5 separate regions of the Homo sapiens genome follow, and regions 1, 2, 4 and 5 are each linked to region 3. The links come from fine-mapping of genetic effects on gene expression. A gene starts in region 3. Each other region holds a variant in brackets. All regions are shown on one strand. Distances are from middle to middle.

Region 1 (5,000 bases), 39 kb before region 3:
AGATTTTTGCTCAGTAGAATGAATTTGTGTGAGCATAGGTGGAGGGTGGGAAGTGTTCAAGATTGTTTTAATTATTTTCATAACTAATTAAAATCAGAAGATTAAAAAAAGACTGTAACACATTTGTCACTGAATCTAGTTCATCTATCCCATGAATTTTTTCTGGTTGTATTTATGTATCCTTTCTCCTAGATGACCCAGTCAATCATTTTGGTATAGTCATCAACCAAATTGAGCAGCAATCTAAAACAACTATCACATGGCAAACAGGATTAGATGGCCCATGTAACAGCAGGATCACTTTCATCTTCAGGAAAACCTGTGTTAGTGCTAAGATCATTAAGAAGCTCTTGTACTTTAACTGGTATAACCATTTCTAACTTACTTATCACCACAGTTCTGTAACCAATTTTCTTTCCATAGATATGAACTAGGCTTAACATGATTAACAAAAGTGTTTTCTAATTCTTTTCTATTCATCTTAGAAATGTACAAAACCTCCTAATTAGAATATCTGATAAATGATTAAGAAAGCCAGTAGGTAAGAGAAATAAATAACTGGATTTTATCATTGAGAATACAGTCAATAGGGAATCTAAAATGAAAACTTAAAGACATAAACAACTAAAAATGACAGGAATGATAAATTTGATAGAGTTCCTCTAATATAACACATTGTAGTTAAGAGTTAGCATTATTTAGATAGCTTAAGTCTTTTAAATTACTTAGATCTTTTCCCCCACTCTTGTTTTTTTTCACAGCTGGTGGACATTTACATGAAATTAATTTCTCTTGTGGCATAAATTGATCTATTTCTACCAAAACTTCCTTGGCCAAAATCCTATAGCTAGTTTTAAAATAATCTGTTTCTCTTTGTTTTTAAAGCCAGTTTTTACTTGCATTCTCTGTTGAAGAATTATTCAGTTCCCTGGTCAGGTAAAATTGGTATATTAGCAATTTTCTACTCATAATATAAAAGTAAGTATATTAGAATGTACTACGTTAGAGTTAGATAGGCTAAAAATCAGTGACACATGTTCTTTTCTAACTTTTCCGTCAGTAGTTTCAGGGAAACGTCAAGAGTGGTTGGGCACTGTATTAGAACATCTATGGAGCTTCAAAAAATACATTTATATATAATACATAAAAATACAAATATATACATATATAGGCATTCCTGGATCCTACCATCTAATACACTGCTTCAAAGTAGGACCTGGACTTTGCAGTGTGTTCTAAGTTCTAGAGGTGAAAATTGCTGCATTGTTACTCCTTAAACCAGTATTTCTGAATGTTGGTCCTTATACCCATTTTAGTCGATAACAGAGTTTTCACTAGACCATAGTGAAACGAAAAGCAAGGAAAGCTAAACTTATCCCATTTTTAACTTATAAATTATTTTCCTTCCCTTCCACCCTCCCACCTTTTTGATATTAAAATAGTCTCCCTTTTGTTAAATAATGTTGATGGTAGACATTTACAATATAATGACTTGGCAAAATAAAAAGTTGCCAACACTTATGTAAATAACCCAGCTGTTCCACCTTTTTTGAGATTTTACAGATCTGTGAAATTCAAAAGTCCGGACATTTCTGCCTTTAAACAATTTAAAGCAAAAAACATCTTAGAACGACTTGGTGAGTGGGAGAGATGAACCACTGGTACCATCTTTTAAGGTTAGGAAATGTAATTATGCTCTAATTTGGAAAACACCTGAAAGACTTCACGTCTCTATCTTCTCTACCAAGCCCTTTGTCTTGTGAATTCTCTTCCTCTGCTGATTCTGCATGGCTTTCTATCCTATTCAGTATCAAGTTCTGATTTTTTGTTTATTTTGTTTTCATTTCATTTCTAAGTATTGCTCAATGATCCCGTCCTCTGTGATATGGTTTGGCTGTGTCCCTACTCAAATCTCATCTTCAACTGTAGCTCCCATAATCTCCACATGTCGTGGGAGGAACCCAGTCAGGGGGTAATTGAATCATGGGGTTGGGTTTTCCCATGCTGTTCTCACAATAGTGAATAAGTCTCATGAGATCTGATGGTTTTATAAAGGGGAGTTC[T/C]CCTGCATATGCTTTCTTGCCTGCTGCCATGTAAGACGTGCCTTTGTTCCTCCTTTACTTTCCACCATGATTGTGAGGCTCCCCAGCCATGTGGAACTGTGAGTCCACTAAACATCTTTTCCTTTATAAATTACCCAGTCTCGGGTATTTCTTCATAGCAGTATGAAAATGGACTAATACACTCAGGATAAGTTGCATTTTCTAAATAAATTCCTCAAATAGAAATTATTCCACATGTTCCTTAGTTCTATAATATCTCTTATTTACTTGAATTATCGAGGGGAATAATCTGTCATTTTTGTTTGTTTTGTTTCTCCTTTTTAAAAAAAGTAACATTCACATTACCAAAAATTTAGAAAATCACAAAAAAAATCACAAAGGAGAAAATTAAAATAAACCACAATTCCACCAACTAGAGATAATCATTGTTAATATTCTGGTCATATTCAACCAATCAGGAAATCATACCATACATACTATCATTAACTACTCTTTTAAATCAGGATTTTTAAAATGTGAATATACTATACTCAAGGATATAATTTATTTTATAACCCCTTGGCTCAATTTATTTTTAACAAGAAAAGTTTAAGAACCAGTATCTCTTACTTATTTCTTAGTTCCAAATTAGAGCACAGTAAAAATAAATAAATAAATGCAAACAAAAAGAAGCCAACCACATGCCAAAACTTGAAAGGTCATAACAGCTCTATCATTTAGCTATATACTATAATCCTTTTCTGATTAAATAGTCAATTTAAACGTTATTCAGCTTTACATTCTTCATGATGTTCTTGTTTTTGTTGTTTTTGTTTGTGTTCTTTGTTTTTGAGACAGGGTCCTGCTCTATCGCCCAGACTGGAGTGCAGTGGTGCAATCATAGCTCACTGTAGCCTCAACCTCCCGGGCTCAAGTGATCCTCCCACCTCAGCCTCCCAGGTAGCTGGGACTACAGGCGTGCACCACCATGCCCAGCTGATTTTTTAAAATTTGTTATAGAGACAGGGGTCTTGCTATGTTGCCCAGGCTGGTTTTGAACTCCTGGGTTCACGCAATACTCCCACCTCAGGTTCTCAAAGTGCTGAAATTACAGACATGAGCTATCGCATCCGGCCCTTTATCATGTTTTTTGTGACTATCAATTATAGGGAACTTTCCATGTGTTGGGTAGGCTGAGCTTTACATTAACTTATTTAATGTTTTAAACAAATGATTACACAAAACAAAAATAACTTAGGTATGTACCAGACTAGCAATCATAGATTCATATATTTCAATATTAGAAGCACTTGAATTTTACTTTACCTTGAACAAATTTGACACAGTGACTGAAGAGAAACACTGGGCATGTAAGTTAAGGCAGCATTGTAACACAACAAAAGGAATGTCAACACTTCAAACCTAAAGACAAACAAAAAGAATATTAACAAATCTTTAGAATTCTAAGAAGTCAACTATAATAGGGGAGAGAGCACTCCTTGGGGAGAGATACAATGTTACAGAACAGACCTGCACAGTATAAGCACACCAATAATGAAAAACTACAAGGAAAAAAAGACTTTCCAAGTAACAGCCATATGAAACCTGTCTTTAAAATTCAGTGTTCCAGCTGACACCTGAAGCAAAGCACAGTGACAAATCTAGATCTGTTTTTCTCTTGTATAAAATGACTCAGTATTCAAATAAATTGTCACACACAACTCATTAAACATTATTTATAAGTCTACTGAAATAATTTTCTTAAAAAATTAGTGGATTAAGATAAGAATTTTTATCCCCACAGTATACCGATTCTGTGCTGTCAGCATCTCCCTTTGAGGATGAGGTCCACTGTATACCACTTTTGACAAACCATGCTGGGATAGTGCACTCTCAGTCAGAGCCATGGACCCAATGCTGGAAGGCTAGAGAAAAGACATTTGAATAAAGAAAAAAAAAGCTATTCTGCTGAAAAGGTGATATATAGAATATATATATACCACTAAAATAGCTACCACGAACATCATATATCTTAAACATATTTAGGCTGCCTACCAAATTTTCTGCTCGAAGATTTAATAACTAATTTTAAAACAAACCACAAATGAGAAATAAAAATTAGTTTAATTTCACAAATTCTACCATGGAAATACACAATTGCCCACCCACCACCCCCCTGCCCGCCGGCCAACACACACAAGTAGCCATCCATCAGGAAGAGGGAAAAATATTTCAAAAAGAATACTTTCAATAGATCTCTTATTAGCACATTTTAGTTTGATGTTCATTTATTTTGATTTCTTATCTCAATTTGGAAATAGTAAATACTTTGTGGGTGTTTATACTTTTGCAGGTACTAATAAATTGATCAATTTTTTTCCTAAATAACTAGATTATAACTTGTGGCAATATCAAAGCTTAGGGTCAATAAACTTACTGTGATAAAATGTCACTTACTTCATGGTATACAGATGGTTTGGATAAAGATGGAATCGTAAAACTCAATACTTTGGTATGTCCCTGTTTGTCAACTATTTCCTATAGAAGTGAAAGAAAATATATTAAAATACATACTTTCTTACACACAAATTTACAAACTAAATTTAAATAGTCTAAAACATTTTTTTGAAAAAGACCTGAATAGAAAGGAATTTTAAGTTAAAACCTTAAACCATGATAATCCATTATTATTCATCAACACCGGTAGTTAAACTGTACATCCTTCCACTTAAAAAACATATGTAACAAATTTTCAGGATGGCTGAGATACAGATACAGTGTCTTAATAATCCTTGATCTTACTCATGTAACAAGTTATATTTGCTAAGCGAAGTAATCATTTAAATATGAAATATGTGAAGAAAATGACCTTATATTTCTTTTCTATTTTGAAAGGTACAAAACTTAAGTATCTAGAATACCATACGAATTAACATATAAACTCTATTAGTAATGCAA
Region 2 (5,000 bases), 70 kb before region 3:
GAAAAGAGCAATGAAATATTGCTTTTTCAAAACAAACTTCAGGCATCATTTAAATGCCGAGAATTCCAACTCTTCAAGTCTTGAGAGCTTGCCTTAAAAATTTCCATAGTGGTATACAAAGGACTCCAGGGTGCTTTCCTGTGGCTTCAGGAAGGGAAGGGAAGACATTTGCCCTGGGTAGTCTGGGACAGTCCCTTGAAAAGTCTATTTTTGTTTCTCTCCCCACTTGGATTCCAAAAAGCTAGTGCTGGCTCCAGTGCCACCAGAATACTCCAGGCCGTTGGGTTTTCAAATGTGAGAGGTTGGGTGATTTCAAGAATCTATAGAGATTTAAAATGTGCAATGAAGCCACAATTTCTGTTCAGATCCTCTGAAATATGGGGTGCAAGACCCCAATTTTGTGTGGAATCCTTCTCATGATAAAAATATTATTCTGGATACTTAGGAGATCTGTGACCATCAGCATCTTTATAAGAAAGTGACCTACAAAAGCTACCCCAATTTTCAAATTTGAAAGTTCAGTGGGGAGAAAGTAGTATGGATAATAGTAATGGTTACCATAGTTAAGATTATCCAATTTTCATAATTTCTATAAAAACTTTCAATGTGTAATCCTTATTTGAAATAGTATCAAAGGAACTATAAAAGAATTTTGTTGTTAACGTAACTCCGCTCTCCAGAAAATCAATTAGTGCAAATCATTTGAAGCAAAAAATCAGAACCATTTCACTGAGCAAGTCTTCAGAGATTTTTTAAAAAGAATATACAAATGCAAATTTGTTGTGCAGTATATAAAAGGGTGGCACCCCTTTTCACACTTAAAATTTCAGGCATTTACAGCTCTGATTCCATTTATAGTTAACAAGAAAAATATAAAGTGTTACTTTTTTACTGCAAAAATAAGGATCATTAGCAATCTAGAATTCAAATACTTAAGAAGCCATATGTCAATATTATTAAACTAATTAATTAGCTGTCAAAACCAATGAAGATTATAATGATCTAGTGTCTGACACATTTGATCTAGGGCTGTGAGACCACTGGGAATTCTACATATTAGACGAGTAATTTGTTTGCACTCTGATACTTTCTTCTCATAAAAATCACTTGGGAACCTTGTTAAGAATGCAAATTCTGATTTAGTAGACCTAGAGTGGCATGAAATTCTGCATTTTTAACAAGATACCAGATAATGCCAATCCTACTTACTGGTCCTCAGACCACACAGCTAGCAAAGGTCTAGAGAGGTCTAAATGAGGTTCCATTACAGTGATAGAACATGAAAATCTGATCTCTCAGCTCTGTCAGCTAACATTTCCCCAAACTTATTCTACAATGTTTCCTAAGCACCTCAACTTGCTTAAAATGCCAATCTTAAAATGCCAAATTAGTTTTTAATAATACCAATACTATTAATAACTATGCACAGGGGAAATTCATTGTTAAAGAATGACAAAAAGACATCTGTAAATTCACAGTGATATTTTACAAATATTTTAAATTGTACACAGGGTTCCTATTAAGTTAATACAATATCAAGTTTCACTGCCCGATTGCCTTACAGTTCTTAACTACAATTTATGGCAATAGATCTTATTCCATTCTGTTACTGGAGCTAAAAGAAAATCAAATTCATTTATGTCAAAATCCACATTGTAAACAGGGCTAATGAATGAAAACGAGTTCATGCTTTTTGAAGAACTCGGTTTAAACTGGTAGCCAAAGCAGTTGCAGTTAAAACTATGTCCAGAGTATAAATGCTTTGGCAGCCTTCAAAGCATACAAATTTTTCATATATCTGAGCTCTGCATAAGCAGGAACAAGAGGAAAACACTAGCATGCTCTCTTGGTGACTACAGCAAGGGACTATGAAGAAGGAAACCGCTGTGCAGTCACAGTGAAAAAGAGCCAAGAACTGGACAGCTCCTTAGGTCTTCCTCAACGGTCAACTGACTCAGCCTCAGCCGTGCTTTCTCTCTCTCACTCTGAATGATGACTTAAGTACATTTGCTTTACAGGGGAACCGCAACCATAGCCAAAAGGACCACGGCTAGCAAACATCAAACTTTTATTTCCATCTAGAGGTCACATACAGATACATACAAGTTTGTTTCAACTTCTGCCATGTCGTCTTTTTCATTTTTACTTTTTAGTTGGGAGGTAACTAAATTGATTATTCTTTTGATATCATACTAAGATATTTAAAACAGGCCTGTTCACTAACAAGAAAGACATTTCTTTTTCTTCGTGTTTTAAATTTAAGAACACAAACATAAACAACTTTAGTTAATATATAAATGTCCTTTGTCCATATTTCACTACCTTTATTTTCTTTCATGACATTTTATAGATGAAAAATGCATTTGCAGACAAACAATTACATATTATACAGTGGTATCTTGAGAGCTATGTTGCAAGATTTACACTGATTTCCAGGAAGTCTTCCAATGACGTATGCTCTGAATTATAGGAGTCCAAACTAACTAGGATTTCCAAAGTCCAGCAGTAGGGTAAATCAGCTTTACAGCCTATTATACCTTAATAATTGAAAGGGATCTTCACATGCTAAATCCAGATAAAACACTTCAAAACAACACACCTACCAGCAATCTGATTTTTGATATAAAAATGTTTCAGAGATAACAACAGAAATGCCTCTAGCCATCCCCTGGAATCATATAATATTCTAGGCACTGGGTTACCAGGCATTTTCCAGGGCTTTGAGCAAATTGTTCTAATCATAAAGATGATCTGCTTACAAATATTTTCATCAGGTGCTTTTCATACACATCATTTTTGTGTTTCCACATGCCTGTTTTCAGATTGGCTTCCTGACCAGGAGCTAGAGAATTCCTGGAGTTGTGCCTCTGCCCCATTCTCTATAAAACAGTTCCCATACATGCAGACTCCCTTTGACTCTGAAGGCCAAACACACAGCCATCAAAATAGGAGCTATTAAAAAACCAAACCAAACCAAAACAAGAAAAACCACCTTACAACCTCACATGAGACATAACCAACTTGATTAGACAACCTGTCAAAATTTATTGTCACTGACAATCTTAGGGCAACAATAACAAATA[A/G]GAGGAGGGAAAAAAAAGACTCAAACCAAGGGGAAAAAATCTTAATCAAGAAATAACAAAACCATATTTCAACTTACTGCAACCTAGACAATCTTCCCTTCATAAAGTCAGGGGAGCCTTCAGAATTTAAGACATCAGGGCTCCTGTCAGGAATACGGATGAAAGACCCAGGGTACTTTCATAAAGAAGCAAAGTTGTATTTCCAGGTTCACTAGGTTATGGGAGAAAAATATGTTACTAATTAATCTGTGGACAGAGTAATGCTAATACTAGGAGGTCTCTGCTGACCTGATTGATGCTTCATTGGAAGTTCAGTTCTTTCTGAAACGTAAATAAGCTTTTCTTCTTGGAGACTACAAGCGGAAAACCTATTGGCATCTGTCCCAGCCCCACAACCAACAGCAGATGACGGGTTATGTGGGACTGTGACACCACTGACTTGTTCAAAGGATTTACTAAATACAGTCGCTGCGGTCTTAGCCAAACCATGGCTACTAGGCTTAGGTAGGGATTGGCTGGTTGTTAAAGTAAGTCTCTTCAAAGAGAGAAGCTCAAGATTCTCACTTTGGGCTCTCTGAGTTTGTTTTCGAGCAAAGTGATCTTTGCAAGATTCCCCTGTAGTTTCTTTTTCTTTTCCTCCAGTTTTGCTTCCTCCTGACCGTCTGTGGTTCTTTCCTATACTTGGCTTGTTACTACAATTGTGACTACTGTTTGATAAACCCGACTGGCTGGTACTAGACGCAGCCCTGGAATAAAATCCCTCGTCAACTTCAGATATCTCCATCAGTTCTTCTTGACCTGTTAATTCTGTATTTCCTAAACAAAGAAATGACAAAGATTAATTAACATTAAGTATTTTAAGCAATCTTTTTAAATGATTAACACCAAATCAGTTATGCTTTACATAAATTAAGCTTTAGCATAATTTATAAAGCAACAGATTATAGAAAATCAAAGGATAAATCAAAACATTTATTATAAAATGTCAAAAATACTTCACTGTAATTAAATGACAGTAATTTATAGTGTATTAAACAAAAAGCATGCCATAAACCATACCCCATTAAGTTTTTAGAAAGAATTCTCCTATTCATGCAAAAGATAAGAAACAATTAGAAATATCACGCAGTAAAACTAGGGGTGAACTCTCCTTCAGTAGCAAAGCAGTATAAAATCAAAGCTCTTACCAAGGAACTTTTAAAAAATTGGTATTAGAATACTTTAAAGACTTTTTTAGAAGGTTGTACTCTATATTGTAGATTATTTTATCAAATTAAAAAAATCTAGACTCTAAATATCACAAGCTCAAACATAAAATTCTATACACATTATCCTTCATAACAAAGATGGCAAAAAGACAAAGCCGAAAAAGTAATTTTAGAACTCCAAACATAAGCAGAAAATTATTTTAGAAGGAATTTTCTGCCTCAGTTTTCATAAAAATTTACTCAAAGACGATAAAGGTATAATCATTCCAAAGAACATTAAGAGTCATTGAGAAATGTGGTGCATAATTCATGCATTTGGATTAGATTACATGCAAAATTTTTGTGACTGTGCAACTGCTGCTTAACATGCATCAGTGGCCCTTTGCCTTAAGATACCTTGGAGTGCAGTTATAAAGTGCTCTGCTAAAACTGCACTCTGCCAGGTGAGTTTATTCCATCCTCCATCATTTTTCTTACAGATTTTTGCCTCCTGATCTCTGGCAAGCCTTTGCTCTCAGTTCTAGGATCTGTGGCTGTTTCCTGCACACCCTGTATATGCTGAGCATCAATCTCTCCTAGTGTTCTGCCTTTTTCCCCATTCCCGGTTCTCTCTCCGGCCACATTTGTGACACTAATCTCAGGAATGACAAGGATGCCCAATTCAGTAGCATCATTATTGTTGTCAGGTTGCTCTAGAATTGAAGATGAT
Region 3 (5,000 bases):
CAACAGGATGCTGAATAAAACAGTACATATATTTAAACTCACCGTCAAAGACACCAGTCTAAAAAATACAACCCAGAGCAAATTTCATAAAACAGAAATACAACAATGAAAGGAAGCAGAGCAAGGATAAACGCTGACCCAGCTAATGCCTTATCGGGTGTCTGTATCCAGGTACTGCTAATGCCGATGACTAAGAAGGTTTCTAATCCTTCTAATCCCTCATGGTAATTTCAATAAATCGAATAAGGATAAACGAGCCAAATCCAGAATTTGTTTCCTAAATATGTGATGCTTTTCCCCCTTGCCACTTGGTTTGATTGAACTGATTATTTGAATAGCTGACTTTGAAGCCACTATTGGCCAAGCAGATCTTAAATGTTTTTCCTTCCTTGTCTTTGCCTGCACTTCAAAAATATGGTGGTTTAGACTACTATTCATCCTGTAAACCTTAAAATGTATTCACCTAAAGAAAAAAAAATACTTGGAAATGTCGGGGGAGGTGGGGTGCCTGTGGATGTTAGCAGTAGAATGTTTTCATGGAAAACAAGCCTCCCAGTCTTTCTGACTTTATGGCAATAAGATTTGAAAGCTGAAAACCTCAAACTGTAAAGTGTTACATGAACCAAAGAGGTGGCCCACCTGCTCCAAAAACTACTGTGTGATCCAAGGATAAATAATTTGCAAAAGGTCAGCTTGGCCCTACTGCCTGTAGGGCAGTCTCTGAGATAAGAAGTAGCTGCCGGTGGAACAAATTCCCCCTACCTGAAGAGCGCCGCGGCTGCCAGGCTTGTGATAGTGTATTTCTCAGAGAGCAGATTCTGTGCAGTACTAAACCACTTAGGCAAAATTAAAATCTTTCAGGAATGTCTAAACTCACAAAGCACACATGTGCAAGCTGACGGGCAGACAGCAAATTTCGGGGAAGCGTACAAACTTGGGGGTGTTTTAATGCAACCATTTTCAGCCAAACCCCCGAGGATTCCCGAGTATGTTAAAATGAGCCTCAGGAGAGGAATAACTCATAGAAAGAAGGGGCAAGGGCTCAAGAAGAGATCTTCAGCGAAATAACCAAGGAAGGAAGCGTGGCTGCTGTCTGAACCTCTCCGCCCTGCAGGGGACCAAAGACCGACTCGGGCCAACGCTGCTCTCCAGGGGGCGAGGGCGGGGGGTCGACAGTGACCATTGTGGCCACCAGACCGGACGGACAGTGGCGGCCTCGCCGAAGTAGAGGGCGCGAGTGGGAGAGGAGGCAGAGGCCAGAGCATCCGCCGCGGCAGGGAGGGGACGGGGGGCTCCCGCCCCAGGCCCACCCGGCAGAGGGGCGGCCGGTGGGGCCGAGGCGGCGGCACCCGGGTCACAGCAGGAGGCTGGACTGCTCCTCGCCGGGAAGGAAAGACCCGAGTCGCGCGCACAAAGCTGCCGCCCTCCAGGCAGCGGGCAGGCTGCGCCCAACTTCGGGGCGAGCAGCGCCGGCCGCAGCCCACCCGCCCGCCAGCCGCCCCCAGCGCCCCGCGCCGCCTCGCACCCACCCATGGCGCCTCGCGCGGGAGCCGTTACCCCCAGTGGAGCCGCGGCCCCAGGGACAAAGTCCCGGTCCTGTCCTCGCCGCCGCCTCGCCCCGGCTCCTCCCTGACAAAAAAAAGTTATCCGTTGCCGGACGCCCTGGGGGCCCGGCGTGGGTCTCTCGGCTGGACTCACCAGGGCGGCTGCCGGAGCTCCACCTGCAGGACCTCGACTCGTGAGGCTCTCAGCGACAGCGACGGAGGCTGCTCTGCTTCCTCCCGAGTAGCAGCACCACCTGCTCCCCTTCTTCCTAGCAGAACGGGTCCCGGTGAGCCATCTTCCCCCTCCTCTCACTGACTGACAACCCAGCCGGGAGAGCCACCACTGCCGCCAGCCTCTCTGACAGGCACGACCAGGGACCCGTCCTCAAGCAGCCAACCACCACCGCCCCACGCCAGTTCAGCCTATCGCCGTCCTCCGGGGCGGGATCAGAACAACTTCTCCACCAATGAGAATCTTCTTCTGCTGGGCCTGGGGCGGAGCCATGAGGCGCCTTGAGTGGGCGTGGTCTGAGCAATGGGCGTGATCCGGGCGTCCGAGGGAAGTTGATTGACTGTAAGGTTTGCGGTGGCCGCTAGGCGATGACAATCAGCGAAGGTCTCTTAGATTCTGAGCCGTTAGGGCTTATGGCCTTCTCAGAAAAAAATAAACCTTACCGGATGATGTGAAGGGTATCAATTTGTTTCTCTTTTGTGAGAAAAGAGAAACAAATTGATAATTTACTAGTCAGTAGGATTTACTTCCCTGTAATTAAATTCACAAGAATTTATCAAAATCTTATCAAATCCCGGGAGGAAAAAAAAATTACGTTTTTGCAAAATGGAAATACAAACTTCCCCCTCACTACATCATTGCTTTTGGGCTTAGCCTGGAAAAAGTCAAATACGATGCCTCAGTTTTCTTTCCATGGGGGTTGTTTTTATTTTTTCCATCATTCCTCCCTACTTTTTCTCTGAACATATACTAAATGTTTTGTATAATAACTGGAACCCGAGAACACCTGAACCTGCGCCTGCAGACAGTACTGCTGTTTTTGACCTTGTAAACCTCTCCTACCACATCCTTCTCAAGACTGGTCAGGATTAATTAGAAGAAAAACTGACCTCCACCCTAGAAGACAGGAAGTTCATTCTAGCTTTACACTAGAAATGGGCAGGATTTCTCCAGAAACACTAAGTGAACTTTTCAAACATGCTGAACTCATAAATAACAAGCACATAAATAAGAAGATATATTACTTGATATCAAAAGGGTATCAAGCAAACAATTTCAGGTAATTATTAGGGCAGATTGCTAAAACAGATAGGATCCCCCTCCAAAGGGAGGATCAGATTAATGAGTAAATAATAACAAACTACAGTGATAAGGACAATAGAGATTGGTTCAATGAGCAATGGAAACAGAGGACAAGAAATGACTGTTTAGGAAAGTCAGCGAACTCCACAAGGAAGGTAATGTTTGAGTTGGATCTTAAAAGGTAAATGGGAGTTTGCCAGAGAAGAAAGTCAAAGGGTATTTCAGAAAGGGAGAACACCATGTTCAAAGGCATGGAGCTGTGAAAGGGCACAGAGCCATTGTGGAATGTTGAGAAGGTAGATGGGGTTAAATGATGAGGAACGGCCAAAAATTGGGCTGGAGCAAAAGGTTGAGGTGAGATTGTAAAAGACCTCACAAGCTACACTAAGATATTCAGACAAGCACTGTCCAGCAGAGCTTTCTGCACTGGTGAAAATGTTCTATATTTGTGTTGTCCAAAATAGTAGCCATTAGCCACATGTGGCTATCAAATACTTGAAATGTGGTGTGACTGAAGAGCTCAATGTATTTATTTATTTATTTATTTATTTTTGAGACAAGGTCTCACTCTGTCACCCAAACTGGGGTAGAGTGCTTAAGTGATCCTCCCACCTCAGCCTCCCAAAGTGCTGGGATTACAGACATGAACTACCATACACGGCTGAAACTCAATTTTTAATTTTTTTTTTTTTTGGCAGAGTCTCCCTCTGTCACCCAGGCTGGAGTACAGTGGTGGGATCTTACCTCACTGCACTTCCACTTCCCAGGTTCAAGCAATTCTCCTGCCTCAGCCTCCTGAGTAGCTGGGGTTACATGAACTCACCACCACACCCAGCTAATTTTTGTATTTTTTGTAGAGACAGGGGTTCACCATGTTGGCCAGGCTGGTCTCGAACTCCTGACCTCAGGTGCTCCACCCACCTCAGCCTCCCAAAGTGCTGGGATTACAGGTGTGAACCACCATGTCTGGCATTAATTTTTAATTTTAACTTTAACAACTCCCATATTGGATAGCTCAGGTTTAGATTTTCTTCTTAAGGCAATGAGGGACAGACAACAGCTTTTAATCATGTGGACAATGCAATCAGGTTTCTTTTAAATGGTGAGAATCCAAAGAAAAAAAAACAGGGTAGAGAGGAAATTCTTGACAGATCAGACTGACTTAATTTAGGTCCCCTTGGCCAGAGCCTGTTCAGGACAAGTGTTTACTCAAAGAAATAGGGAGAGGAAGATCCAGGCAGCATGTTATTCATCTTAGAGAACACAAGCAGTCAAAACCTGAGACGTTGAATTCTGCCGTCAAGTCCCATTGAGTAGGAGAGTGAGGGACCAAGGAAGGAAAGAAACCGAGTCAGCCAGATCATAAGATAGAGAGAAACAAGAGTGGGCAAAAGAGTGCACACCTACGCGCATGCACACACACACACACACACACACACACACCATCAGTTTTACTGGCCATTGGCCATGTGTGCCAGTAATGTGTTGACCTGATTTGAAGAGCCAAAGTTTCTGGTGGCAGGAAGCCCAGCCAAGACCAGGACAAGATTCCAGGAGAGAATCTCGAACCAAACCTGTGGAAGTCAGGATGGAAGGGACAGGTAAATATTATTGACTTCCTGTACTGTACAAGGCACGTGGCTTGTCAAGGATACAGATGAATGCTAGAAGCTTGCTTATAGTATAGTTAGCTGCATAACAAACAGATGAAAGGTTAAGCAAAGATTAAAGTAATTATTTAATGCAGCAGTGGAGAGATTACATAAGGCAGTACATAATCGATTCATTGTTCAAATGATTTTCTAGGCATTAGCCGCTGTGTTTTCAGAGGAGGATGCAAGCACTGCAGTCAAGGGCAGTCAGGGAAGGCTTCATGAAAAAGGCAAAATGGGCTGGGTCTAGAAAACTGGGGAGGAATTTGAACCAGATAAAATGGTGAGAAAGTAACTCCCAGAATGCCTGGAGAAATAACACAAGAGGGGAAGCACAAGCAATGTTCAGAGGGCATGGGAGGCAACTTGAGTCAGCCAAGCCTGGCAAGCTAGGTTGCAGATAGATAATAGAACACCTTGAAGGCAAGCTCAGTTGTTCAGATTTTCTCCTTTTGCCTTGTGGCTTCCTGTCTGCTCATTAGAATCACT
Region 4 (5,000 bases), 170 kb before region 3:
GCTTGGTAGTCCTACAGTGGTGTAGTTTCCGGGTAGAAAAAAATCCGTTAAAGCCTAAGACCTAGTTATCACTAGTTTAGGGATAGGACAGCCCTAAGTAGTAGTGAAGAACCTTGAGAGAAACATAAACTTTTACTAGAGGGAGTGTGAAAGGGTTGTCATCTTTTTTGAAAGACTGTGTTTTTCTTTTTGTTGTTGTTGTTTCTCAATACACTCATTTATTTATTCACCCAACCAATACAGTAGTTATTAAGTGCCTGCTATGTGTTAGGCATTGCTTAAAGACTAGAAAATATAACAATAAAAAAGATAAAGTTTCTGCTTCTGTGGACTTTGTATTCTAATGGCGGATAATAGTAACAATAAGCAGTCAACCATAATACCAGCAGCAAATACTTACATGGTGCTTCCCATGAGCCAGCCCCTTTCCTAAACTCTTTCTACACATTACCTCATTTTATCTTTATCACAACCTATACAGCAGGTACTGCTATTATCCTTATTTTACAAATAAGGACATTAAGGCATAGGCAAGCTAAGCAACCTGTTCAAGTATACAGAGTTAAAAAGTAACAGAATGGGGATTTGAATCCAGGAAGTTAAATTTTAGAGTTCATGTATTTGACTAATATAGATACATATAGATATAGATACGTATTGGTGTAGATAGGGGGGTGGAGGGAGAAAGACATGGGGAGAGAGAGAGATAAGGAAATAACTCCCCCACCGTTCTAGAGGATAGAAGACCTCTAAACAGAAATGATAATCTTCAAAGGCACTTAAGTTTTATTAGCAGAAGCTAATTGAGAGACAAATAGATGGAGAAAGATAATTGCAATAAAGAAAGCAGGGTAAAGCGATAGAAAGTAATGGAGGGGGCCAGTGCGGTGGCTCATGCCTGTAATCCCAGCACTTTGGGAGGCCAAGATGGGTGGATCACGAGGTCAGGAGATCGAGACCATCATGGCTAACACGGTGAAACCCCGTCTCCACTAAAAAAAAAATACAAAAAATTAGCCGGGCGTGGTGGCGGGCGCCTGTAGTCCCAGCTACTCGGGAGGCTGAGGCAGGAGAATGGCGTGAACCCGGGAGGCGGAGCTTGCAGTGAGCCGATATCGTGCCACTGCACGCCAGCCTGGGCGACAGAGCGAGACTACGTCTTAAAAAAAAAAAAAAAAAAAAAAAAAAGATAGAGTGACCAAAGCAGGCAACATTGACTGGAGTTGTCCAGGGCAGATTCCCAAGGCTTGCCCAACCCAAGAGCGTGTGATCACATCTCAGGTTTCAGCAGCAAACTCCAGAGACGACGTAAGACTGGGAACAGTTGCATCTCAGCGGTCACTGTCCTGAGGGCAGTTCAGACCCCAGCAGAGGCCAGTGAGGATGTGCATCAACCCCGTAACCCTGTTTCCCTTCCCCTGCCGTAAGCACCTCCCTCCCCCCGCCACACACATACACCAGATGCCATCTGGAGAGGCAAAGGGAAGGGGAGCAGAAACCCGAAAGACTAAGTCTGTTACAAAAATAGACTGAACATTTACCTCAAACGCCTGTTTAAATTATTGAATCTGAATAAATTACTTGACTGGACTAAAGTGTGAGACCTGCAAGGCACCTCAAGCCCTATCCAGCAGAACATGGGCTCAACAGGAAGCGCAGACCAGCAACAGAAAAATACAGAGTAACTCTGTTCTCAAGCCAGCATTTGTGACGCTGCTGCCCCAACTTGAAGACTACATTTGGCAAGGAGAGGAGAAAGGACACAGGATGGAAGCAAAAGGAACCTAAACAGGCCCTGTTGCTTTTCTGGAAGGCAGGAAGTCATGTTCACACAGATGCTTAGGAATGTCACGGGTTAGGAACTGAATACACATTGTGTACTTCTCTGGAAAGAATAAAAGGATTATTCATTTTTCATTATAATTTCTCTAAAGCAAAAAGCATGATTTAGGAGTAGCCATTTGTGGCATTGCCGCATTCAATTACCCAGCACAGATCTGGATGGGCCTGGCAGCTATTTCCAGGCTCCCACACCACATGTGGGTCATAAATATGCGTTAATC[A/G]AAAAGGACAAAGCAATCAAGTGGCTTTACGTCATTTATTACCATTTCTGTGAGGGTCAATTGTTAGTAACTGCCTGCATGTGGCTCAGGCAGCCTGGGCTTTATATGCAGAAATTAAGCAGTCACAATTCCTACCCTCTTGAAATTTAAACTTGGCAATGTTGATTTGAACAATTACGTAAAAAAAAAAAGGAACCAAACAAAGCTTCACCTGCAATTATTCTCCCACACGCCCACTCCGAGATCCAGCCACAGGGAAGCTCTTTCTCATGTCCACTCAGAAATTCTGTACAAGCTGTTCTCACTACCTGGAACTCCATCCAGATTATAGTAGACACTTGGAATGTGGTGCTGGCTTATACTCTTCCAGGAACTGAAAAGTGCGGGCCTTTTCCTGTAAAACAGGGATAGGCCCACACTGTTGGACACCTAGCCAATTGTTATTACTCCATGGCATCTTTTCTACAAAAGTACTCTGTTTTTATTTAGAGTGGTAATGTGCCTAGCGTGGTGTTGTTGTTGTTGTTGTTGTTGTTGTTGTTTTGAGACTGAGTTTCGCTCTTGTTGCCCAGACTGGAATGCTCACTGCAACATCCGTCTCCCGGGTTCAAGCAATTCTCCTGCCTCAGCCTCCCAAGTAGCAAGGATTACAGGTATGCGCCACCACGCCCAGCTAATTTTTGTATTTTTGGTAGAGACGGGGTTTCATCATCATGTTGGCCAGGCTGGTCTCGAACTCCTGACCTCAGGTGATCCGCCTGCCTCAGCCTCCCAAAGTGCTGAAATTACAGTTGTGAGCCACTGTACCCGGCGTTGTTTTTTTTTTTTTAATGTGTTTCTCAGTATCATTTTCAGCTAGAGGAGGGCATGTAACACAGTTCTGGCCAATGAGATGTAAAGGGAATCACCAAGTAGGGCTTCTAGGAAAAAACAGTTTTTAAAAGGGCTACCTCAGTTGACATTCACCTTTGCCCTTTGCCCTTCACCCTTCTTGGTCTTCTTGAGAATGCAGATGAGAATGCAGGATGTGTGACCGCGAGGAGTTAATTAGAAGGGCTAAAGCTATATTTTAAGGATGGCTGAACAGAAAGAAAGATCCTGGGTCCCTTTGAACCAGTTCTGAACTGTTGTGTGAGGAAAATGAGATCTCTATTTGGTTAAGCCCCTGTAGTCAGATTTTTATTATGTGTAGCCAAATGCAATCCTTAATTGGTTCTAGGAATGACAGAAGTGAGACTATATAAATTAGGTGGCCACTGTGGCTGGTGCTCACTTTTTGACAGTGCTTTCTTCCTCTTGGGCACCTGTAGTTGTCTGCAGAATTTGGAGCAATGGTAGCACAGTGGAATTTTCTCCAGTTCAATCGTGGGCACTTAACCATTAAGTGGGGGCCTAAGATGCACCAGACGCAGTGCTAGGTGCTGTGAGTACAAGCCTCTGCCCTCATGGCACTGATGTTCTATTCAGGGAAGAGGAAAAAAAACAAACATGCAAACAAGAAAAGGAAGTTAGGGCACTGTGAAGAGAAAAACAGATTAGGGAGGACAGGCATGCTGGGTGAGATGAGGGGAGTTGGCACTTTATACGAGGCAGTTCTAACGTGGTGTCTTAGTGGACTTGGGCTGTTATAACAGAGGACCACAGACTGGGGGCTTACATAACAGAAACTCACTCTCTCACAGTTCTGAAAGCTCCAAGTCCAAGATCAAGGTACCAGCAGGGATGGTTGCTGGTGAGGACTCTCTTCCTGGAGTATGGGCAGCTGCCTTCTCGCAGTGCCTCACATGGTCTTTCCTCTGTTCATGTGTGCCGGGGAGAGAGAAGGGCCTCTGGTATCTCTTCCTCTTCTTATAAGGACACCAGTCCTGTTGGATTAGGGCCCCTCTCTCAAAACCTCATCTAACCTCCCAAAAGGCCGAATCTCTAAATACTGTCTAGTCAGTCACATGGAGGGTTAGGGCTTCAACCTATGCATTTTGGGGGAACACAATTCAGCCATAATAGGTGGCTTATGACTGGAGACCTCAAGGAAGAGACAGTGCAGGCCAAAATGAAACCTGGGGGAAGAGCATTCTGGGCAGAGGAACAGCAAGTGCTAAGGCCCAGAGGCAGGCATGTTTGCTACATTCAAAATACAGCAAGGAGGCCAGTGTACATGGAGCAAATGTGAAAAGGACAGAGTGTCAGGAAGTAGGACAGACAGCAGATGGAGGCCACATCATGTACAGCCATGTAAGCCGCTGAAAGGACTTTGACTTTACACTGAAAGAAATGAGAGGCCACTCAAGAATTCTAGGCAGAGAAATAACATGATCACACTTACGTTTTAAGAGTTCACTCTTTTGTGTGGAGAATAACCTGCAGGTGCAAAGATGGAAGGAAAGTACCATAGAGAGCTGTTAAAATCATCAGGAAGGGTGACCATGGAAACTTGGACTAGGGTGGTTGAGAAGTGGTCAGAGTTGGGGTTTAGAGGTAGAGCTGGGATTGCTGCAATGGACAGATGTAAGGTGTAAGAGCAGGAGGGGAGTCTGGGATGCTGCCCAGGTTTCTGCCACAGGCATCTGAAGAATGAAATAGCTATTTACTTCAGTGGGGTTACTGGTGGCAAGATCAGTTTTTGAGGGCGAAAAATCAAGAATTCAGTTTTGGATAAGTTAATTCTGAGATGCCTTTTAGAAACCTAAGTGCAAATGTTGAGTGGGCAGTTGGAGAGATGAGTCTGCAAGTCAGGAAATAGTCTAGGCCTGTGACAGAAATGTAAGATTCATCAAATAAAAATGTCATTTCACACCGTATGACTAAACGAAGCCATCACCTAGACAGGAGTGGATCAAGGAGAGCAGAGATCTGAGGACTGAGCCCTGGAGAGCTCTGCAGTAAAAGGCGGGCAAAATGAAAAGGATCCAGTCACAGAGGCAGAAAAGAGGCAGGCTG
Region 5 (5,000 bases), 86 kb before region 3:
AGGAGAAACAAAATACTTTACAGACAAGCAAATGCTGAGAGATTTTGTCACCACCAGGCCTGCCCTAAAAGAGCTCCTGAAGGAAGCACTAAACATGGAAAGGAACAACCGGTACCAGCCACTGCAAAAACATGCCAAATTGTAAAGACCATCAAGGCTAGGAAGAAACTGCATCAACTAACGAGCAAAATAACCAGCTAACATCATAATGACAGGATCAAATTCACACATAACAATACTAACCTTAAATGTAAATGGGCTAAATGCTCCAATTAAAAGGCACTGACTGGCAAATTGGATAAAGAGTCAAGACCCATCAGTGTGTTGTATTCAGGAAACTCATCTCACGTGCAGAGACACATATAGGCTCAAAATAAAGGGATGGAGGAAGATCTACCAAGCAAATGGAAAACAAAAAAAGGCAGGGGTTCCAATCCTAGTCTCAGATAAAACAGACTTTAAACCAACAAAGATCAAAAGAAACAAAGAAGGCCATTACATAATGGTAAAGGGATCAATTCAACAAGAAAAGCTAACTATCCTAAATATATATGCACCCAATACAGGAGCACCCAGATTCATAAAGCAAGTCCCGAGTGACCTACAAAGAGACTTAGACTCCCACACAATAATAATGGGAGACTTTAACACCCCACTGTCAACATTAGACAGATCAACGAGACAGAAAGTCAACAAGGATATCCAGGAATTGAACTCAGCTCTGCACCAAGCAGACCTAATAGACATCTACAGAACTCTCCACCCCAAATCAACAGAATATACATTCTTTTCAGCACCACACCACACCTACTCCAAAATTGACCACATAGTTGGAAGTAAAGCACTCCTCAGCAAATGTAAAAGAACAGAAATTATAACAAACTGTCTCTCAGACCACAGTGCAATGAACTAGAACTCAGGATTAAGAAACTCACTCAAAACTGCTCAACTACATGGAAACTGAACAACCTGCTCCTGAATGACTACTGGATACATAACGAAATGAAGGCAGAAATAAAGATGTTCTTTGAAACCAACGAGAACAAAGATACAACATACCAGAATCTCTGGGACACATTCAAAGAAGTGTGTAGAGGGAAATTTATAGCACTAAATGCCCACAAGAGAAAGCAGGAAAGATCTAAAACTGACACCCTAACATCACAATTAAAAGAACTAGAGAAGCAAGAGCAAACACATTCAAAAGCTAGCAGAAGGCAAGAAATAACTAAGATCAGAGCAGAACTGAAGGAAATAGAGACACAAAAAAGCCTTCAAAAAAAATCAATGAATCCAGGAGCTGGTTTTTTGAAAAGATCAACAAAATTGATAGACTGCTAGCAAGACTAATAAAGAAGAAAAGAGAGAAGAATCAAATAGACGCAATAAAAAATGACAAAGGGGATATCACCACCAATCCCACAGAAATGCAAACTACCATCAGAGAATACTATAAACACCTCTACGCAAATAAACTAGAAGATCTAGAAGAAATGGATAAATTCCTCGACACATACACTCTCCCAAGACTAAACCAGGAAGAAGTTGAATTTCTGAATAGACTAATAGCAGGCTCTGAAATTGAGGCAATAATTAATAGCTTCCCAACTAAAAAAAGTCCAGGACCAGATGGATTCACAGCTGAATTCTACCAGAGGTACAAGGAGGAGCTGGTACCATTCTTTCTGAAACTATTCCAATCAAGAGAAAAAGAGAGAATCCTCCCTAACTCATTTTATGAGGCCAGCATCATCCTGATACCAAAGCCTGGTAGAGACACAACCAAAAAAGAGAATTTTAGACCAATATCCTTGATGAACATTGATGCAAAAATCCTCAATAAAATACTGGCAAACCGAATCCAGCAACACATCAAAAAGCTTATCCACCATGATCAAGTGGGCTTCATCCCTGGGATGCAAGGCTGGTTCAATATACGAAAATCAATAAACGTAATCCAGCATATAAACAGAACCAAAGACAAAAACCACATGATTATCTCAATAGATGCAGAAAAGGCCTTTGACAAAATTCAACAACCCTTCATGCTAAAAACTCTCAATAAATTAGGTATTGATGGGATGTATCTCAAAATAATAAGAGCTATCTATGACAAACCCACAGCCAATATCATACTGAATGGACAAAAACTGGAAGCATTTCCTTTGAAAACTGGCACAAGACAGGGATGCCCTCTCTCACCACTCCTATTCAACATAGTGTTGGAAGTTCTGGCCAGGGCAATTAGGCAGGAGAAGGAAATAAAGGGCACTCAATTAGGAAAAGAGGAAGTCAAATTTTCCCTGTTTGCAGATGACATGATTGTATATCTAGAAAACCCCATAGTCTCAGCCCAAAATCTCCTTAAGCTGATAAGCAACTTCAGCAAAGTCTCAGGATACAAAATCAATGTGAAAAAATCATAAGCATTCTTATACACCAATAACAGACAAACAGAGAGCCAAATCACGAGTGAACTCCCATTCACAATTGCTTCAAAGAGAATAAAATACCTAGGAATCCAACTTACAAGGGATGTGAAGGACCTCTTCAAGGAGAACTACAAACCACTGCTCAACGAAATAAAAGAGGATACAAACAAATGGAAGAACATTCCATGCTCATGGGTAGGAAGAATCAGTATCATAAAAATGGCCATACTGCCCAAGGTAATTTATAGATTCAATGCCATCCCCATCAAGCTACCAATGACTTTCTTCACAGAACTGGAAAAAAAAAACTACTTTAAAGTTCATAGGGAACCAAAAAAGAGCCCGCATTGCCAAGTCAATCCTAAGCCAAAAGAACAAAGCTGGAGGCATCA[T/C]GCTACCTGACTTCAAACTACACTACAAGGCTACAGTAACCAAAACAGCATGGTACTGGTACCAAAACAGAGATATAGACCAATGGAACAGAACAGAGCCCTCAGAAATAATGCCACATATCTACAACTACCTGATCTTTGACAAACCTGACAAAAACAAGCAATGGGGAAAGGATTCCCTATTTAATAAATGGTGCTGGGAAAACTGGCTAGCCATATGTAGAAAGCTGAAACTGGACCCCTTCCTTACACCTTATACAAAAATTAATTCAAGATGGATTAAAGACTTACATGTTAGACCTAAAACCACAAAAACCCTCGAAGAAAACCTAGGCAATACCATTCAGGACATAGGCATGGGCAAGGACTTCATGTCTAAAACACCAAAAGCAATGGCAACAAAAGTGAAAATTGACAAATGGGATCTATTTAAACTAAAGAGCTTCTGCACAGCAAAAGAAACCACCATCAGAGTGAACAGGCAACCTACAAAATGGGAGAACATTTTTGCAACCTACTCAATCTGACAAAGGGCTAATATCCAGAATCTACAATGAACTCAAACAAATTTACAAGAAAAAAACAAACAACCGCATCAAAAAGTGGGCCAAGGATATGAACAGACACTTCTCAAAAGAAGACATTTATGCAGCCAAAAAACACGTGAAAAAATGCTCATCATCACTGACCATCAGAGAAATGCAAATCAAAACCACAATGAGATACCATCTCACACCAGTTAGAATGGTGATCATTAAAAAGTCAGGAAACAACAGGTGCTGGAGAGGATGTGGAGAAATAGGAACACTTTTACACTGTTGGTGGACTGTAAACTAGTTCAACCATTGTGGAAGTCAGTGTGGCGATTCCTCAAGGATCTAGAACTAGAAATACCATTTGACCCAGCCATCCCATTACTGGGTATATACCCAAAGGATTATAAATCATGCTGCTATAAAGACACGTGCACACGTATGTTTATAGCGGCACTATTCACAATAGCAAAGACTTGGAACCAACCCAAATGTCCAACAATGATAGACTGGATTAAGAAAATGTGGTACATATACACCATGGAATACTATGCAGCCATAAAAAATGATGAGTTCATGTCCTTTGTAGGGACATGGATGAAGCTGGAAACCATCATTCTCAGCAAACTATCGCAAGGACAAAAAACCAAACACTGCATGTTCTCACTCATAGGTGGGAATTGAACAAAGAGAACACATGGACACAGGAAGGGGAACATCACACACCGGGGACTGTTGTGGGGTGGGGGGAGGGGGGAGGGATAGCCTTAGGAGATATACCTAATGCTAAATGATGAGTTAATGGGTGCAGCACACCAACATGGCACATGTATACATATGTAACAAACCTGCACATTGTGCACATGTACCCTAAAACTTAGAAGTATAATAATTAAAAAAAAAAAAGAATTAGAAACAAAGTAAAAAGAAAAAGAAAAAGAAAAAAAAAAAAGAAAAGAAAGAAGAAGAAATAGAAAATCAGAACAGATCTATAAAAGTAAAGAGATAAACTAGTAATCAAAAAAAACTTTGCACAAAGAAAATACTGTGGTTGAAGGCCTAGTGGTTTCCCTGGTGAATTCTGCCAAACATTTAAAGAATAATTCATAACAATACCCCATAATTTCTTCCAAAAAATAGAGAAGGGGGGAACTCATTATTTGAAGCCACTATTACCCTGACACAAGGCCAGAAAAAACATCATAAGAAAATAAAAATACAGAGTAATATTCCCCATGAGTAGAGATGTAAAACTCCTCAACAAAATACTAGCAAATCAAATAATCAAAGAAACATAAAAAGAATTTTTATGGTGTAAAGAATTTTACACCATTACCAAGTGGGCTTCACTCCAGGAATGCAAGGTTGGTTTATCATTCAAAAAATAAATTAATGTGCTACCCCATATTAATAGAATAAATGACAAAAACTACATGTTCGTCTCAATACTTACAGAGAAAACATCTGACAAAATTCAACATTCATTCATGATGATTTTAAAAACACTCAACAAACTACAAATATCAAGCAACTTCCTCAATGTGATAAAGAACATGTGAGATAAACCCACAGTTTGCATCATAACGTGAAAGACAGAATCTCAGAATATAATCTTACCTGGAAATAGTGTCTCTGCAAATGAA

Which allele goes with the higher level. Alleles are on the strand shown, and positions count from the first base shown. SD is a standard deviation of normalised expression in the study named. Not every link is listed here.
In carriers of allele T in region 1, the expression in monocytes after LPS of the gene that starts at base 1,904 in region 3 tends to be lower than with C alone (large effect, 1.3 SD a copy in Quach 2016).
For the expression in iPS cells of the gene that starts at base 1,904 in region 3, allele C in region 5 goes with a lower level than allele T (small effect, 0.31 SD a copy in HipSci).

What was found. PIP is the estimated chance that this variant, and not a neighbour inherited with it, causes the effect.
Region 1: its variant is fine-mapped to the expression of HYCC1 in monocytes after LPS (Quach 2016, PIP 0.95). The same link has a PIP of 0.9 or more in monocytes after Pam3CSK4 and monocytes after R848.
Region 2: its variant is fine-mapped to the expression of HYCC1 in whole blood (TOPMed, PIP above 0.99).
Region 4: its variant is fine-mapped to the expression of HYCC1 in tibial nerve (GTEx, PIP above 0.99).
Region 5: its variant is fine-mapped to the expression of HYCC1 in iPS cells (HipSci, PIP 0.95).

The regions. Positions count from the first base shown.
Region 1 is chr7:22,972,842-22,977,841 of GRCh38, forward strand. HYCC1 (hyccin PI4KA lipid kinase complex subunit 1) reads right to left here. Exons shown (of 11, transcript NM_032581.4): 5 at 4,500-4,580; 6 at 3,852-3,967; 7 at 3,369-3,464. Among named protein-coding and RNA genes, the nearest start is that of HYCC1, 39 kb to the right of the region's middle. The variant T/C (reference allele first, on the strand shown) is at 2,064.
Region 2 is chr7:22,942,265-22,947,264 of GRCh38, forward strand. HYCC1 (hyccin PI4KA lipid kinase complex subunit 1) reads right to left here. Exons shown (of 11, transcript NM_032581.4): 11 at 1-3,899. The coding sequence ends at 3,325. Among named protein-coding and RNA genes, the nearest start is that of HYCC1, 69 kb to the right of the region's middle. The variant A/G (reference allele first, on the strand shown) is at 3,084.
Region 3 is chr7:23,012,227-23,017,226 of GRCh38, forward strand. It overlaps HYCC1 (hyccin PI4KA lipid kinase complex subunit 1), which reads right to left and starts at 1,904. Exons shown (of 11, transcript NM_032581.4): 1 at 1,699-1,904. RefSeq lists enhancers at 606-1,287, 1,705-1,894, 2,055-2,234 and a silencer at 1,245-1,514.
Region 4 is chr7:22,840,801-22,845,800 of GRCh38, forward strand. No RefSeq gene overlaps it. Among named protein-coding and RNA genes, the nearest start is that of SNHG26, 11 kb to the right of the region's middle. RefSeq lists an enhancer at 2,904-3,404. The variant A/G (reference allele first, on the strand shown) is at 2,064.
Region 5 is chr7:22,926,097-22,931,096 of GRCh38, forward strand. It overlaps a transcript of HYCC1 not described here. Among named protein-coding and RNA genes, the nearest start is that of SNORD93, 72 kb to the left of the region's middle. The variant T/C (reference allele first, on the strand shown) is at 2,825.